Linked DNA regions of Homo sapiens: region 2 is linked to region 1. The links come from fine-mapping of genetic effects on gene expression. Tissue or cell type: hippocampus. Region 1 holds a variant in brackets; the other region holds the start of a gene. All regions are shown on one strand. Distances are from middle to middle.

What was found. PIP is the estimated chance that this variant, and not a neighbour inherited with it, causes the effect.
Region 2: SPECC1-DT starts here. The variant in region 1 is fine-mapped to the expression of SPECC1-DT in hippocampus (GTEx, PIP 0.99).

What each region holds. Positions count from the first base shown.
Region 1 is chr17:20,577,145-20,585,248 of GRCh38, reverse strand. It overlaps CDRT15L2 (CMT1A duplicated region transcript 15 like 2), which reads right to left and starts at 5,525. Exons shown (of 2, transcript NM_001190790.2): 1 at 5,241-5,525; 2 at 4,338-5,100. The coding sequence starts at 5,505. The coding sequence ends at 4,520. It overlaps LOC105371580 (a long non-coding RNA gene), which reads left to right and starts at 5,558. Exons shown (of 4, transcript XR_934315.4): 1 at 5,558-6,211; 2 at 6,397-6,622. It also overlaps the pseudogene ZSWIM5P2. RefSeq lists enhancers at 478-1,015, 5,364-6,362. The variant C/T (reference allele first, on the strand shown) is at 3,654.
Region 2 is chr17:20,005,235-20,013,338 of GRCh38, reverse strand. SPECC1-DT (SPECC1 divergent transcript) reads left to right here and starts at 4,079. Exons shown (of 1, transcript NR_186461.1): 1 at 4,079-5,284. SPECC1 (sperm antigen with calponin homology and coiled-coil domains 1) reads right to left here and starts at 3,980. Exons shown (of 15, transcript NM_001243439.2): 1 at 3,915-3,980. RefSeq lists silencers at 3,309-3,488, 3,509-4,178 and an enhancer at 4,611-5,178.

The sequences.
Region 1 (8,104 bases):
TGGCCTAAGAAAGGATGCGGCTGCTGGTGGGAGAAGATAGCCTCTGTTCAGCCAGCCCAAGTTCTGTCCTCACTGCTTAAACCAACCACATGCTGATGTCAGCAGCACTTTGACCCTCTCATCAGAGACATGTCTAAGAGAATGAATTTTCAGCTGCCAATACTCAAGTGTGCCCTTGGGAGGTAGTGGGCCTGGTGGTTTGGTCCCCGTCCCTGTCCATGCTTGTGAGAAACTCCAGACACCTTGGAGGCTCAGGACCCTTTCTAAAGCCCAAAGCCCCAGCACAAGACTCTACCCTGACAGGCCCCACTTCAGCTAGAACCCCTGGCAGATCTGCAACCCTGGCCTTGGGTTAAGCAAACCCCAGGATCTACTGCTCCATCCTTGTGAGGGGCTGAGAGCACCTGCAGAAACCTTCAACCCTCTGACCTGGGTAAGGAAGGGATAGGAAGAGACCCCAAACAAGGTTTGGCCATCTGGGATGCTTCTCTTGCCCTGGTTTGCCTCAGATCATGTCAAGGTTGCTGAGGAGGAGGGAGAACTCATCTCTGCAGGCCAAGTTCAAACCCCACACGGTAATCTGGGCCGACCTGAATCAGGACTGAGATGGCCACGGCTGAGCTCAGGCTCTCCCCGACAGGTGTGTGGGCCTCAGGGAGCATCTTGCAGAGCTGGCACACACTCTTCACCCCTACTGAGGCTGCTAGCATTGTAGCTGCCACAGCCGTATCCCACACCACTATCCTGCGCCTCAGTCTTGACTATCCACAGCGGGAGGAATTGGCCAGCTGTGCTTGCACACTGGCCCTGCAGTGTGCTACGAAGCATCCACAGAGCTGTGCCCTGTCAGCCCTTACACTCTGTGAGAAAGACCACATTGCCTTTGAGGCAGCCTGCCAGATTGCCACCGAGGCTGCTGCCGGTGGCATGACCCATTCACAGCTGTTCACCATTGCCTGCTACGTGGAGCTCCAGGGCTACACGCTCCACGCCTTCAAGCTGGTCTCATTGGCCATGAGCCATCTTCACCTGGCTCATAACCAGGATACCCACCCAGCCATCAGTGATGTGCTCTGGGTTTGTGCCCTCAGCCACTCTCTGGGCAAGAATGAGCTGGCAGTTCTCATCCCCCTGGTGGTGAAGAGTGCGCACATTGCCATGGTGCTTTCAGACATCCTGTGTGCGAGGCTGCACGGTGACTGCACCTGGCCTGGCCGGCACCCCGGGCCACCACAGCTCTGGAAAGCTCATCTCCACTGACAGAGCTCCATGGCACCAGTTGCTGATGCAATGCTTACATCAACACCACACACTACACCTAACACACATTAGCCATTGCCAGTATGGACAGTTCATTGAGTTTCTAAGCAAGGCTCGGGAGACCCTCCTGCTGCCTTAGGATGGCTACCTGCAATTTGCCCTGTTCATCAACAACCACAAACGATCTACAAAGGCAAGAAAAAGCTGATGCTGCTGGTTCGAGAGCCCTTTGACTGAGAAAGCAGATAGCTCACCGGCCCGGCAGCCTGGGTCCCCAGGTAGTATCAGGTCAGGCCAAAAACACTGAAACATTTGTCCACCCTGGGAGGACTCTGAGCACCTGTGGCTGAGGCCAAAGGACCACAGGGCTAAGGATGGGGAGAGTCCAACTCCAGTCGGTATGCATACCTTGGCAAGCTTCTCACTACAGCCCACTGTTCGTGGAGAAGCTGGGCCTTGCAGATCGACCAGAAACCCCCACGATATGCCACCTTATGCCCCTACGTCCTGAGTGTCCTGGGCATTGGCCCTGTCTCCCTTGGCAAACACAGAACACTGTTCCATCTCAGAGATTGCTTCACCAGAGAAACAGATGCATTTAAGGTACTGTAAGTACTATAGTATATGTGTTGCCAATTACTGTAAAGTCGTAAGTATTTATAATTTTGGTTCTGATTTGCTGGGCACTTGAGGTAGCTGTGGGTGGGAGGGTATGCTTATTGTCCGAGGAGACTCACAACCATTTCTCAGGTTTCCCTTGCAGAGTGTGTGCCGTTACCAGTGGGATAGTGGGTGTGCCAAGGAGAAAAATGGCCAGTTAGAAAAAAATCCCAAGACTAGTCTATGCAGAATCTCTCGCCTACAGACAGGGCATTAATAGCCCAGTGGTGGGTGAGCAGCAGAGGCCAGGACTGGACTCAGACTTTTGCCTCACAAAGCTGTGAGGACTCTGAAGGTCCTGCCCCTGCCTCACACAGCCTCGCCAGGAGTCTGCTGAGCACCTTTGAAACAAGAGCAGGGAAAAGATGAAGGTCTGGGAAGCCACTGAGCTCACAATATTCATCTACACTGATCACCTTTGTGTTAGAAAGTGTGTGTATGTGCATGACTGAGTACATGTGTCTATGTGCATAGATATATCTGCGCGTGCCTGTCTGTATGTGCACATTATATGTTGATGTGTATGTATGTCAGTTCTATGGCTGTGTACCTGTGTGGATATGTGCACACTGGAATGTGGGTCTCTGTGTGAGGATGTAACATTTGCACACATGTGAGGGTGCATATCTATGTGTAAATGCTGTCATGTTTTGCATGTTTAGTGTGTGTGTATCTGGGCACACAGGAGTGCATGTGTAGAGATATGCGTCTGTGTGTATGCTTGCTCTCCATGCATCTGTGTTTTTATATGTGTAACTGAGCATATTTCTACATGTAGGGATGACTGCGTGTCCATCTTTGAGGATCTGCATGAATGTGTCCTTTTTGCGAGATTTCTCTTCCCATTCGTCTTAAATCTCTCTCACTAGTTAAATGTTTGTTCCCCATTTCTGTGCCTCCTCTATTTATTCCCTCTCACCAAACAAGCTTCTAAGCACCGGTCTCCCTCTGCCATCAGATTGGCTGCTTTCACTGCACATTTCCCTTCTCGCCCCGTACTTGCTTTCTTCCCCTGCCTTTCTACGTCAAGCTTCCTCTGCCTGCTTTTGTCACAGTCTCATTGCGTGCTGACTTGGAGGCTAGGGCTGGTCTGCACTTAGCCTCTCCCTTCTTAATTTCTAGCCCTAATGAGCAGCCCTGTCTTAGCCCTGGCTGACCTCCACAGTGTATCATCATGTTCCTGCTACCTTCCTGACCCCTATGCTCAGCCTGGAATTGTTGTAGGAGATAGCAAGGGCATTCAGAAGAGTCAGTTGGTTACCAGTGCCTTTGTGTTTACTCTTTTACATGTTAGATCCTGAGTTGGGGGTGGGGTTTGATAAGGAAGAGGTGGTATAGCTAGAATGCGAACTAAGAACTTCTCCATCTGCTTTACTTTTTCTTTTGTTGACAAACTGTCACCTTTTCTACTCCAAACTGAGCAAGAAGTTGTATTTGCCGTATGTAGCTACTCAAGTCCTACTGCCCAGCCAAGGGTCCCTACAATGTCTCAGCCCAGTTGATTGGTTAAAAAGAGAGAGAGAGAGGGAGGTCACTCTCATTTTTGTATCGCAATTGTCCTTCTTTTTAGCAAGTGTGTGAACTCACAGTGCTTTCTATGAATAAACCATGGATCACATGAAAGAGCATTTTTCTTAAAGAAAACAAAAATTGTCTAAATTTTTGTTTAGACAATTTTGTTTAGACAATCCCCAGAGGGGACCAGCAAATACTTAATAGAAGATTATAGATTT[C/T]CTGTGAGTGCATATGGCTCGGGGTGACCTGATTCTATAAAGCAAATGTTATTGTCCTCCTCAAATTCATGCGTTGGATTCTATGTGATGGTATTTGGGGGTGGGGCCTTGGAAGGTGATTCGGTTCATGAAGGCAGGGACCTCATGAATGGAATTGGTGTCCCTATCAAAGGGACTGCAGAGAGCTCCCTCACCCCTTCTGTCATGTAAAGACACAGTAAAAAGATGGCTGTCTATGAACCAGGAAGCCAGCCCTCTGCAGACACGGAATCTGCTGACCATTTGACCTCGGATTTTACCATCTCCAGAACTGTGAGAAATCAATTTTCTATGCTACCTAGTCTATGGCATTCTGTTTTGACACCCAGATTAGCTAAAGTACCAGCATGTCAATTTGCACACATAATTCTTGGAAACTCTGATGCCAAATCCTTGATGGCAAAAGGTGATTGATCTGCCGGAGACATGAGCCTACATCATCCCTCTTTCCACAATAAACCAGAGAGTCAAAACAGGCAAGAGTGGGTCAAGGTCTTCTAAAAGCCATACCTGAAAGGTTTCCAATAACAGATGACTCGATGGTAATTCAGCCACACAAACAACCACAACAAAAGACACAACTATCCGAGATTTTCAGGATAGCCTCAAAAACACCATCTAACATTAGGGAGTTCAAAAAGGTGAGAAGTTTCAGAAATCAAACTTTATTTATATTTCATTTCATAAACTTGTAATTCTAACACTATTAATAAATGCTAGGGCAGGTGGTGGCATGGAGAGCCTGGAGCACAACAGCTGTCTTTAAAAGCTTTCCTTGCTGTACCCTTTGGAGCCACCTCCTGGTCCCCTCAACCCCTGCCCACCTGTTAAGAGCCCGTTCGGGGCAGCACATTAGGGGCAAACAGCCTGGATGCCCAGTTGCAGACACACTTCCATGCCTGGAGGAGAAGATTGCGTCTGAGAGCAGGAGGAGCTGCTGGAACTCTTCTTCCCAGCCTTGTTTTAATGCTCTTGAGCATCACCTTCACAGAGATATACCCCACCAGAATTAGCACAATAAACAGGCCCTGCAGCAGCAGGGCTGTGGTTCCGGCGAATGAGAGAAGCCTCTCTCCAGCGAGGTACAGGAGTCCAGTCTGAATGCCCTGGTCTCCGCCTCCATGTTTGCCACCATGCCCAGGACTAGGGGCAGCATGGGATCTGCTGGCTGGGGCTGTGCTTGTCACCCCCTCCCTCCCACTTCTCTCTCCAGCCACGTTTTCAGCTCCAGCATTAAGGCCAGTGGCTACAGTAGGTGCCATGATTTCAGGCAGCTCCTGGCTGGGCTGGTCCTTGGCTGGAGCTCCCTCCACCTCCAGCGCTCTCTCTGGAGGGGGCTCTTCCCATGCTGGCTTTGGCTCGACAGCCGGTGCCGCAAGTGCTGCTATGTCTGCGTACGGACCAGGAGCTGAAAAAGGAGAAAGGGTCACCAGCATCAGTCACTTTCCACTGGAATTTCCAAACACAGAGACAACCTCACTGAATTCAAAGGCATTCCAGCCCAAAAGCACCGCCCCCGCAAAGTCTTCCAGGCTGCAGCCACCTCACCATGTGTCTGTGCCTCCATGGGCTCCCGAATCTCCTCCTGGACAAGGACAATGTGCAGAGGCAGCCCCGATGGGATCTCTGGTGTGGCCTGGCCAGCTAGGGCCTGCCCCGGGCTGTCCTGTGGTACCTGGGTGCGCCTTCTTACAAAGGGCCACAGGCGTCTGGGGTGAGGGATGAGCCTTCTTCGGCATTGTCGGAAAAGGCTCTCACTCCCTCCATTCCTGAAGCAGCAACCTCTCGAAGTGGGGAAGCAACAGGAGAACATCTTGCTCTCTTGAGCGTCTCCCACAAAGTGAGCTGGTTACGGCGCTGACTCTAGGATATGGGTGCCTGGTTACCAGAGTTCTAAGTTCTCTTCGTGTGTGTCATCATCGAGGAAGTGAGGTCGCTTCTTTACGGTTCTGTCCCCTAGGCCCCTTCCTTCCATAAGCCTACTCAGGACTCCACTGGGTTACTGACTACTCACCCTCCCCTCAGGTCATCTCCTGACCCGTACACAGTTATGTCCACCCAGGCTCTGCTTGGACACCTGTGCCTGATGTTCACCAGGGGCCAGATGTCGTCCTCAGGCCTGATGTCCACCTGGGGCCTGATGTCTGCCTTGGCCTATGTCCCTCTTGGGGCCTTGTGTTCACCTGGGGACTGTATCCAGCTGGGGCCTGATGGCCTACTGGGTCTTGTTGTTCACCTAAGGCCTTGTGTCCACCTGGGGACTGGTGATCACCTGGGGCCTGGGTGTCCACCTGAGGCCGGAGGTGCACCTAAGGCCTGAGTTTTCACCTGGGCCTGATGATCACCTGGGGACTGGGTGTGTGCCTTGGGTCTTTTCCCTTTTCCTGAACAGGGCTTGCAGTTTCCAAACCAGACACAATCTCCCAGTTGGAGAAAGAAAAAGGATCCTAGATGATAGTGAGACAAATTTCAGGAAACTCCATCCAAATAAGTAAATGAGAATGAGGACAGGATTCATTGTAAGTAACATTCTCAGGTGGTGTTCCAAAGTTATCTTTTGCCTGGGTACAGTGGCTCACACCTGTAATCCCAGCTCTTTGGGAGCCCAAGGTGGGAGGATCACTAGAGGCTAACAGTTTGAGACCAGCTTGGGCAATGGAGTGAGACCCCCATTCTGAAAAAAAAAAATCAAAAAATTTAACAGGCATGGTGGCATGTGCCTGCAGTCCCAGCTACTCAGGAGGCTGAGGTGGGAGGATCGCTTGAACTCAGGAGTTGAAGGCTGCAGTGGGTGAGGATCACAACACTGAATTCCAGCTGAGGTGACAGAATGAGACCCTGTCTCTCTAAAAAACAAGCAAGCAAACAAACCAAAAACCACAAACAAACCAGACCCCTCTTAGCAGAATACTTCCATGAGGTAATAAAAGGTATGTACCAAATGCCTACAACAAACATATGTCATGATGAAATGTTAAATGCTTCCCATGGAATTAGGTTCAGGACAAGGTTCCATCCACCATCGCATTTGAATCCCACGTTGCACAGTGTAAAGGGGCCTGCCCAAGGTCATAACATTGCACACTGGGTAAGTCAAGAGAACCCAGTACAGCACTTTAGATCCTTCATTATAGTTTTGTTCTAAAACTGCTCCTGTTATCTTTTGGACATGAGTCTCTTAAGTATTATCATTTGAATTCACGTATACTAGTTCATTTTCACACTGCTCTAAAGAATACCTGAGACTGGGTGATATATAAGCAAAAGAGGTTTAATTGGCTCACAGTTCTGCATGGCTGCGAAGGCCTCAGGAAACTTACAATCATGATGGAAGGCAAAGGGGAAGCAGGCAATTTCTTCACAAGGCAGCAGGAGAGAGGGGAGAGCAGGGGAAACTGCCACTTATGAATCCATCAGACCTCATGAAAACTCACTTACTATCATGAGAAGAGCATGGGGCAAACCACCCCCATGATCCAATCACCTCCCACCAGGTCCCTCCCTTGACACATGGGGATTAAAATTCAAGATGAGATTTGGGTGGGGACACAGAGCCAAACCATATCATTCTGACACTGGTCCCTCCCAAATCTCATGCCCTTTTCACATTTCAAAACCAATTATGCCTTCCCAACAGTCCCCCAAAGTCTTAACTCATTCCAGCATTAACCCAAAAGTCCAAGTTCAAAGTCTCATCTGAGACAAGGCAAGTCCCTTCCACTTACGAGCCTGTAAAATCAAAAGCAAGTTAGTGACTTCCAAGATGCAATGCGGGTACAGGTACAGGCATTGGGTAAATGTTCCCATTCCAAACGGGAGAAATTGGCCAAAACAAAGGGGCCAATGGGCCTCATGCAAGTCCAGAATCTGGTAGGGGAGTCATTAAATCTTAAAGCTCCAACATTATCTCCTTTGACTCCATATCTCACATCCAGGGCATTCTGATGTGTGCTCCCAAGGTCTTGGGCAGCTCTGTCCCTGCGGCACTGCTGTTTTTACAGGCTGGCATTGAGTGACTGCAGCTTTTCCAGGCACATGGTACAGCTGTTGATGGATCTACCATTCGGGAGTCTGGAGGATGGTGGCCCTCTTCTCACAGCTCTGCTAGGCAGTGCCCCAGCGGAGACCCTGTATGGGGGCTCCAACCCCACATTTCACTTCTACCCTGCTCTAGCAGAGGTTCTCCATGAGGACTCTGCCCCTGTGGCAGACCCAAAATTATATATATCATTATAGTTGATATTCTGAGGTAGAGATAAAAGAAGCTATCAGTTTGATTAGGAGGTTTGGGTTTCGCGTTTTCTATGGTAATGTAAAAAGGCAGGAGGATTAGTATGTTACAAGTTCACTGCAATTACAAATCAGTTTCTGTGCATATAAGAAAGCACAAAATCACAGACCTAAGGTCTTGA
Region 2 (8,104 bases), 570 kb after region 1:
TGAAATTCTCACGCATTGCTGGTGAGAATATAAAATGGTTCAGCCTCTGCGGAAAACACTATGCTGGGTCATCAAAAAATTAAAAATAGAAGTACTACTTGATCCAACAATTCTACTTCTGGGTATATACCCAAATAACTGAAAGCAGGGTCTTGAAGAGATATTTGTACACCCATGATCATGGCAGCATTATTCATAATAGCTATGATGTGGAACCAACATAAATATCCTTTGATAAATATATGGATAAGCAAAATGTGGTGTATACATTCAATGGAATATTAATTAGCAATAAAAATGAAGAAAATTCTGACACATGCTACAACATGGATGAACCTTGAGGGCATTACATTAAATGAAATAAGCCAGTTATAAAAAGACAAATACTATATGAGGTACTATATTAGATACTCATGCAAGGTACCTAAAATAGGCAAATTCATAGAGACAAAAAGCAGAATGGTGGTTGCCAGGGGCTGCGGTAATGGATACAGAGCTTCAATTTTGTAAGATGAAAAAATTCTGGAGATTGGTTGCATAACAATGTGCACACACTTAACACTGGGGAACTGTAAACTTAAAAGTAGTAAATGGTAAAAATAAAAATAATAAATAATAAATTTTATGTTATTTTACCACAATATTTATTAAAAGACAAAGATTAACTAATTAAACAAAATCCAGCCATAAGCTAATGGTAAGAGTAACAATTAAAGAAGACACAGAAAATTGAAAATCAGTGACTAGAAAAAGATATTCCATATAAATGCTAACAAAAAGCAAGTACAGCAATATAAAGAGAATGAACAAAAAAAAAATTAAATAAGATGGCTCGTTTATTCCCAAAAGGTACAATTCACCAAGAAGATACAAGAATTGTGAACCTTTAAGCACATAAAACAGCTTCAAAAATACAACATTTAAAGAAAAATATATATTAAACATAGAAATAGTACAAAAACCCCTACAAGAATCATAATGGGAGTCTTCAATACAACTCTCCATATCAACAGGTCAAACAGAGAAAAAAAATAAGTTAAGGATGCAGAAAACCTGAATTACCATCAATAAACTTGAGATTAATATAGAACTGTATACCCAATATACTAAGAGTTCAGGGAACAGTCGTGACTGACAGTGGACTGCAAATTAATCTGTTCTTAATCTTTGTTTTTCTTTCAGCACTGTGGCAGAATAGAGATCCTAAAAACCTTCCAGCTACAAAACATCTTTTTAAAAATATAAAAAAATACAAAAATAACTCTGAAATCAATAGAAGACACATGGTGAAACCAAAATTCTAGAATACAGGGAGAATAAAGGCATTTTCAGATATTACAAAAACAGAAAATTGATCATTGCTGAAGTAATTTCTAAAGAATGTACTTGAGGGAGAAGAAAAATGTTCCAAAGAAAAGTATCTGTGATACAAGAAGGAATGGAAAGTGAAGAAATGGTAAACAGGTAGATAAAGCTAATAAATGTTGACCTAGAAAATAACAAAAACAATAGCAATAATGTCTCGTTGGAAGGGTTGAAGTAAAAATACAATTAAGGCCAAATGTGAGGTAAGTGGAATGAAAGAATTAGAAGTCCTTGCCTTGTTCACAGGACTGATTAAATAAATGAGCCAGGTTTTCCATTCAAACAGTTAAAACTTGAACAAAATAAACTCAAATTAAGTAGAAAGATAAAAAACAGAAATTAATGTCATAGAAAAATAAAAAATCAATAGAATTAATCAATAAATCCTGGTTAATAAAAGCTGGTTCTTTGAAAGGATTAATAAAATAATCATTAAGCAAGTCTGATCAAAAAAAAAGAGAAAAGGTACCAAAAAAAGTACTGTATCAGAAAGAGAACATACAGATACATACAGATATGTAAGAGTCTGTTTTCTTACACCAGAATACTATATACAACATTATGCTAGCATATATTAAATTTCAATAATGTTAATGATTTTCTAGGAAAACAGAAAATATTAAATTTACTTTGAAGAAACAGAAAAACTGAGAAAAATAAATGATCATGAAAAAAATGAAAAGGTAATTAAATACTGATATTAACTGCCTAAACAACACCAGCAGCAGCCCAGGCAGTCTGCAGTCAAGTTCTGCCAAACTTGAGGGAACAGATAATTCTTCTATTCCAGAGCATAGAAAATGATGGAAAGTTTCCCAATTTAATCAGAGAGGACAGCCTGATCCTTGTTATGAACACAGATAAAAATGGGGTAAACTATATGCCAAACTCAGATACCAAAACCCTAAATAAGATGCTAGCTTATTGATGTGAACAATCCAAAAGTGCATTTTAAATTAGCCCAGGGTTTTAGAGAAAGAAAATCTAGCAATGTGACCACCACTTATGTTAACAATTTTAAGACGAAAATCTACATGATCATATCAATGCATGCTACACAAAAGCATTTGGGCAAAAAACCCAACACCCACCCTTGACTTTTTAAACTCTTAGTAATTAGGCATAAACAGAAATGTACTTAATGTGATAGAATACACTCGGTGAAGATACAGAGGGAATGCTCCCTAAAACCAAGCCCAAGACAAAGATTCCTATTTAACCTCAATAGTCAACACTGCAGCGAGAGTAATCTATGGAAGACAAGGAAAAAAGTAAAAACATGAGAGACATCTGTTGTTTAACAGACAATAAGATCACCTACTTGGAAGAGGCAAACGAATCAAGCGAAAAACTATTAAAACTGAGACAGGCTTTAGTATGGAGGCTCAGCTTCAGCTGTAGTTTGGGCTACCAAATTCAACTCGCTTGCTTGGAGAGTTAATCCTGCAAAGCTAATTTCTGTTGAGGTATTAGGATTGACAAGCCTGTGCTCCTCCCTCCTCCCCCATCTTCAACACTGAAATAACACGGTGTTTGGAACTGGATAACAGAATCTTCCAAAAACAAAAATTGTCCTGAAGGGCTGACTTGTGCCCTTACTCAAAAAACACTTTATCTGCTGCCTGCAGCTCCTACAGTTGCTGGTGGATAAGCCTGCCAACCAGCTCGGCGTAATTCTTCCTGCAGAGGGCAAGGAAGAGCACTTTCACAGGAAAATTTTTTTCCGAACTGTATGCCGCTTATTACATAAACTTACGTGCTGGCAAATGGAGCTCCAGCAAAATAAGATATTCAGAGTCAAACTTCCTTAGGAAAAAAAAAAAAAAAAAGCAAGCACATAACACTAATTTCCTTGCATGGGCACTGGGGAAGGAGGTCGTTACTTCCGCACGCCCGCAGGTCCGCACCACCGGGAAACCCACGGGCACCGCGCGCTGCCCCCGGGCCTTCCAGGTGCACTGCGCCGCGGCGCCCCAGCTGACCCGGGATGCGCAGCCCTAGCCCTTCCCCTGTCACCCCGGCCAGGAAGGGGCGGGAGCGCGGCGGACGCCGAGGGCGAAGGGCTTCTCGGTCCTCTGCACCACGCAGCACCCCCAAGGCACAACAGGGAGGGTGCGGGAGGCTCCCGAGACCCAGGAGCCGGGGCCGGGCGTGCCCGCGCACCTGTCCCACTGCGGCGAGGGCTGGGGTCGCCTCCAGGGCCGCAGCTGTCGGGAGCCACCTGGCTCTCAGTCCCGGGTCCCTGCGACAACCCTCGGGCCCGGAGGGGAGGAGGCGGCCACCTGCCGCTGCCACCTGCGGCACCGGTCCCACCGCTCCGGGCCGGGCAGGACAGGCCAGGACGTCCCTCCTGGGCTGGGGACAGGACACGCGACGAGGGGACCGGGGCCCCCGCGGCGAAGACGCAGCACGCCTTCCCAGAAAGGCAGTCCCGTGCCCCCACGACGGACTGCCGGACCCCCGCGCTCGCCCGCCCATCCCTTCAGACCACGCGGCTGAGGCGCAAAGAGCCGGCCGGCGGGCGGGCTGGCGGCGCGGCTAGTACTCACCGGCCCCGCTGGCTCAGCGCCGCCGCAACCCCCAGCGGCCACGGCTCCGGGCGCTCACTGATGCTCAGGAGAGGGACCCGCGCTCCGCCGGCGCCTCCAGCCATCGCCGCCAGGGGGCGAGCGCGAGCCGCGCGGGGCTCGCTGGGAGATGTAGTACCCGGACCGCCGCCTGCGCCGTCCTCCTTCAGCCGGCGGCCGGGGGCCCCCTCTCTCCCAGCTCTCAGTGTCTCATCTCCCTATCTGCTCATCCTCTGGTCGCACATAATCGATGTTTGGGCGTCCCAAGCCAGATGTGGACCCCATTTCCGCACTCTACACTGGAGGTTTTCTAAGGGTGGTGCCCGGACCAGCAGCTTCAGCCTCATCTGGGAACTTGAGAAAATGCAGATTCTCCGTCCCACCCAGCCTATTCGGTTTTTCCTGCACTAAAACCATGAAGGTGGGGCCCAGCAGTCCACATTCTCGCAAGCCCGTCAAGTGATTCTGAGGCGCCCTCCAGTTTGAGAGCTATGCTCACGGCCTCACCTCCGCCCCGCAAGGAGCCCGGTCTTGCCTGTGGCGCTAGCCGCACACGGACACCTCATCCTGCGGGGCCCGCCCCCCCGCTGCACCCTCACCGCCCAACGCCTCCTCCGGGATGCAGCGGAGGCGCCTGGAAGTCGGCAAGGTCAACATCCCCCTCAGCATCTTCCCTACCCTCACGGCTCCTCCTCCAGGGGTGCCTCATGGCCAGGGGTTAGAAAGAGCCACTGTGTTTCTTGACATGGAAGTGGCCTAAGACCTTAATGAAAACTGCAGGAGTGGAATGACAGAACCTTTGGTCATACTTGAGGGCGTGAAGCTCAAATGAGGAGGAAGGAAAGGATCCAGGGAGAATAACCAACCCTGGCAAGTTGTGGCGCCCAGGTAGAGGGGCGAGCCTAGGCTAGCGGTTCTCGACCAGGGCCGGTGTTGCCCCTCCTCGCCGCCCCGCGTACATTTGGGGAGGTCTGGAGACATTTTTGGTTGTCATGATGCGGGAGTTGCTACTGTTGCCTAAGTGGGTAGACACGAGGGTGCTCCTCAACATCCTACCTGAAGGACAGGACTGCCCCACAAGGAAGAATGATCCGGCCCCAAATAAGAAACCCTGGGCTGGTCAGCAACAACCCCTTTGTTCTGAGAAGAGAGGAGGAAAGAATAAAAGAAGTGGGGTGAAGTTTTGGTTTGGTAGAGGAAACTTGAAGACATTTTCACTGGAAAGGAAGAGAGGAAGAGGAGGGAGATGTCTGTAAGGACGAGCAAACCGGGTGACAGCTGATTTCCTCATATTGAAGTAATGAGTCCTAGTTATAATAAATTCCTAATAAAAACCCAGTTTATCCCTGCAATAAACTTGTCTTTTTTTTTTAAATATACTGCTTGATTCTGTTTGCTAATATTTTATTTACAGGCTTTGCATTGATATGCAAAAATGAGATGGGCAATAATTTTCTTTTTGAATGTCTAATGTTGTTTGGTTTCAGAATCAATGTTATGCTCACATCATAAAAAATTTGGAACCGAGGCAGGAGGAGTGCTTGAGGCCAGAAGTTCGAGACCAGTCTAGGAAACACAGTGAGACCCCCCCATCTCTACAAAAAAAAAAAAAGAAAAAAAAATGGGCATGTTTGCTTTTTCCTTTTACTCTGAACAATTTAAGGAGCATTAAAATTATCTATTCTTTGAGGTTTGATCATTTCCCAGTTAAAAATGTTCCTCCCAGCCTGATGCTTTCTTTGGGGAGGGTAAATCTTTTAAGGCTAGAAAAGTTTCTTCTGTGGCAATTTTATTATTTACATTTTAAAAATTATTCTAGAGTTAATTTTGATAAAGCATGTATTTCTTAAAACAAATTATCCTTTTTTTCCAGATGTTCAAGTGTATTTGCATAAAGTTGAGGAAAGTAGTCTTTTGTGAATCTTTTAACTTCTCCCAAATATCTTATTTTGTGTATTTTTGCTTCTTTATTTTGTTAACTTTTAAAAGTGTATTTTTTTTTCAAAGAATCAGCTCTTAGGTTTATGTTTTTGGTTATACTGGAGCTTTTTTCTTCTTCTTTTTAAAATATTTTTTCTCCTTTATTTTTTAGACGTATTTTGATCTAACGTAATCGGAAGAAGGTAAATTAGAATCTTTTGTTACTATTGTGTTTTTATTTCTCCTTATTTCTCTGAAGTCCTGCTTTATAAATAGTACCATGTTATTTGTGCATAAATATTCATTTGTCTTATATTCTTGGGAATTTTCCCACTTCATCATAAAATGACCTTCCTTGTCTCATTTAATGTGTTCAAACTTTGCCCTGAATTTAACTTTGTCTGATATTTTACCATCCTGCTGAATTTTGTTTGTTACCCCAAACAACCTTTGCTGTTTTCGTCTTTTCTGAACCCTTTATTTTAGGTAATCCCTTGAATTAGAGCACTAAGTTTTGCTTTGTGATTAAATCTGAAAATCTTTATCTTGCCATAGATGAGTTGAGCCCTATTCATGTGACAGCTATATTATGCTGTTTCATAGCCCTTTTGGTCCTTTTTTCACTCTTGCATTGCATATTTTGTGTTTATTGTGTTTTGTGTTTCTTCTGATAATTTGGAAGGTTTGTATTTTTATTCAGGGAGTTGCCTTATAATCATACTCCGCAATACACATCGTCCTCAGTTTCTTCAGACTGTCTGTTAACTCCCTATTCTGAATAAAAATGACATTGTAATTTCCCTCTTTTTTCTTTACCCCTTTTCTTCTCCTCACCTAATGTAAATGATTTTATCCTTCTTTAGTATTTGCTTTTTTAATTAACTACATTTATAAATATCTTTATCACTTGATTTTTAAATCAGCTTTGAATGAGATATTTGGATTCCTAGATATAAAAGATGTTAATTATACCATTTCCACGTTAGTAGGTTTATAAAATCATACATTCTGCTGTGTAACCATAATCCCACGTTTGTTTTAGTTCCACTCCTACAGTTAAAAGATTCAGAAGTATTATTAACAGTTATTTTGCCATAGTTTTTTCCCCAACCCATTTTGTGGTAAGTTATGATCCTGCTTTAGTTTCTTAAGAATAATTTATAGAGCAGAGTGTGGTGGCTCACGTTTGTAATCCCAGCACTTTGGGAGACAAGAGGTAGAAGGATCGCTTGAAGCCAGCAGTTCAAGACCACCCTGAGCAACATAGTGAGACCTTGTCTCTACAAAAAATTTTAAAATTTAGCCAGACGTAGTGGCGTGTGCCTATAGTCCCAGCTACTCAGGAGGCTGAGGCAAGAGGATTGCTAGAGCCCAGAAGTTTGAGGCTGCAGTGACCTCTGATTGTGCCACTGCACCCCAGTCTGGGCAAGAAAGTGAGAACCTATCTCTTTAAAATAACAATAATAACTTATGAAAATTATATTCCCTGAGTTTTTCATGTTTAAAAATATTTGTTGCCTTTATCCTGTAAAAGTTTGAGTATAAATTCTTGGGTTATACTTTATTTATTGAAGAATGTATAAGTATTGTCTTCTAGAATTGAGTGTTGCTGTAATGAAACCAGAAGTCAGCCTGGTTTATTTTTCCTCAGAAATGAGGTAATTGCCGGCCGGACACCGTGGCTCATGCCTGTAATCCCAACACTTTGGGAGGCCGAGACAGGTGGATCACGAGGTCAGGAGATTGAGACCATCCTGGCTAACATGGTGAAACCCCGGCTCTACTAAAAGTACAAAAAGTTAGCTGGGCATGGTGGTGGACGCCTGTAATCCCAGCTACCCGGGAGGCTGAGGCAGGAGAATGGCGTGAACCTGGGAGGAGGAGCTTGCAGAGAGCTGAGATCGCGCCACTGCACTCCAGCCTGGGCGACAGAGTGAGACTCCGTCTCAAAAAAACAAAAAAAAAACAAAGAAGTGAAGTAATTGCCATGATGCTCCAAGAATTATCTCTTTGTCTATGAAATCCAGAAATCTCACTGTTATACATTTTGGAATTATTATTCTGGGCCAATATTTCCTGGGACACAATAGATTGACTCTATAGATTTAATTTTTTTTTTTTTTTTGAGACAGAGTCTCACTGCAATCTCAGCTTACTGCAACCTCTGCCTCACGGGTTCAAGCAATTCTCCTGCCTCAGCCTCCCAAGTAGCTGGGACTACAGGCGCGTGGCACCATGCCTGGCTAATTTTT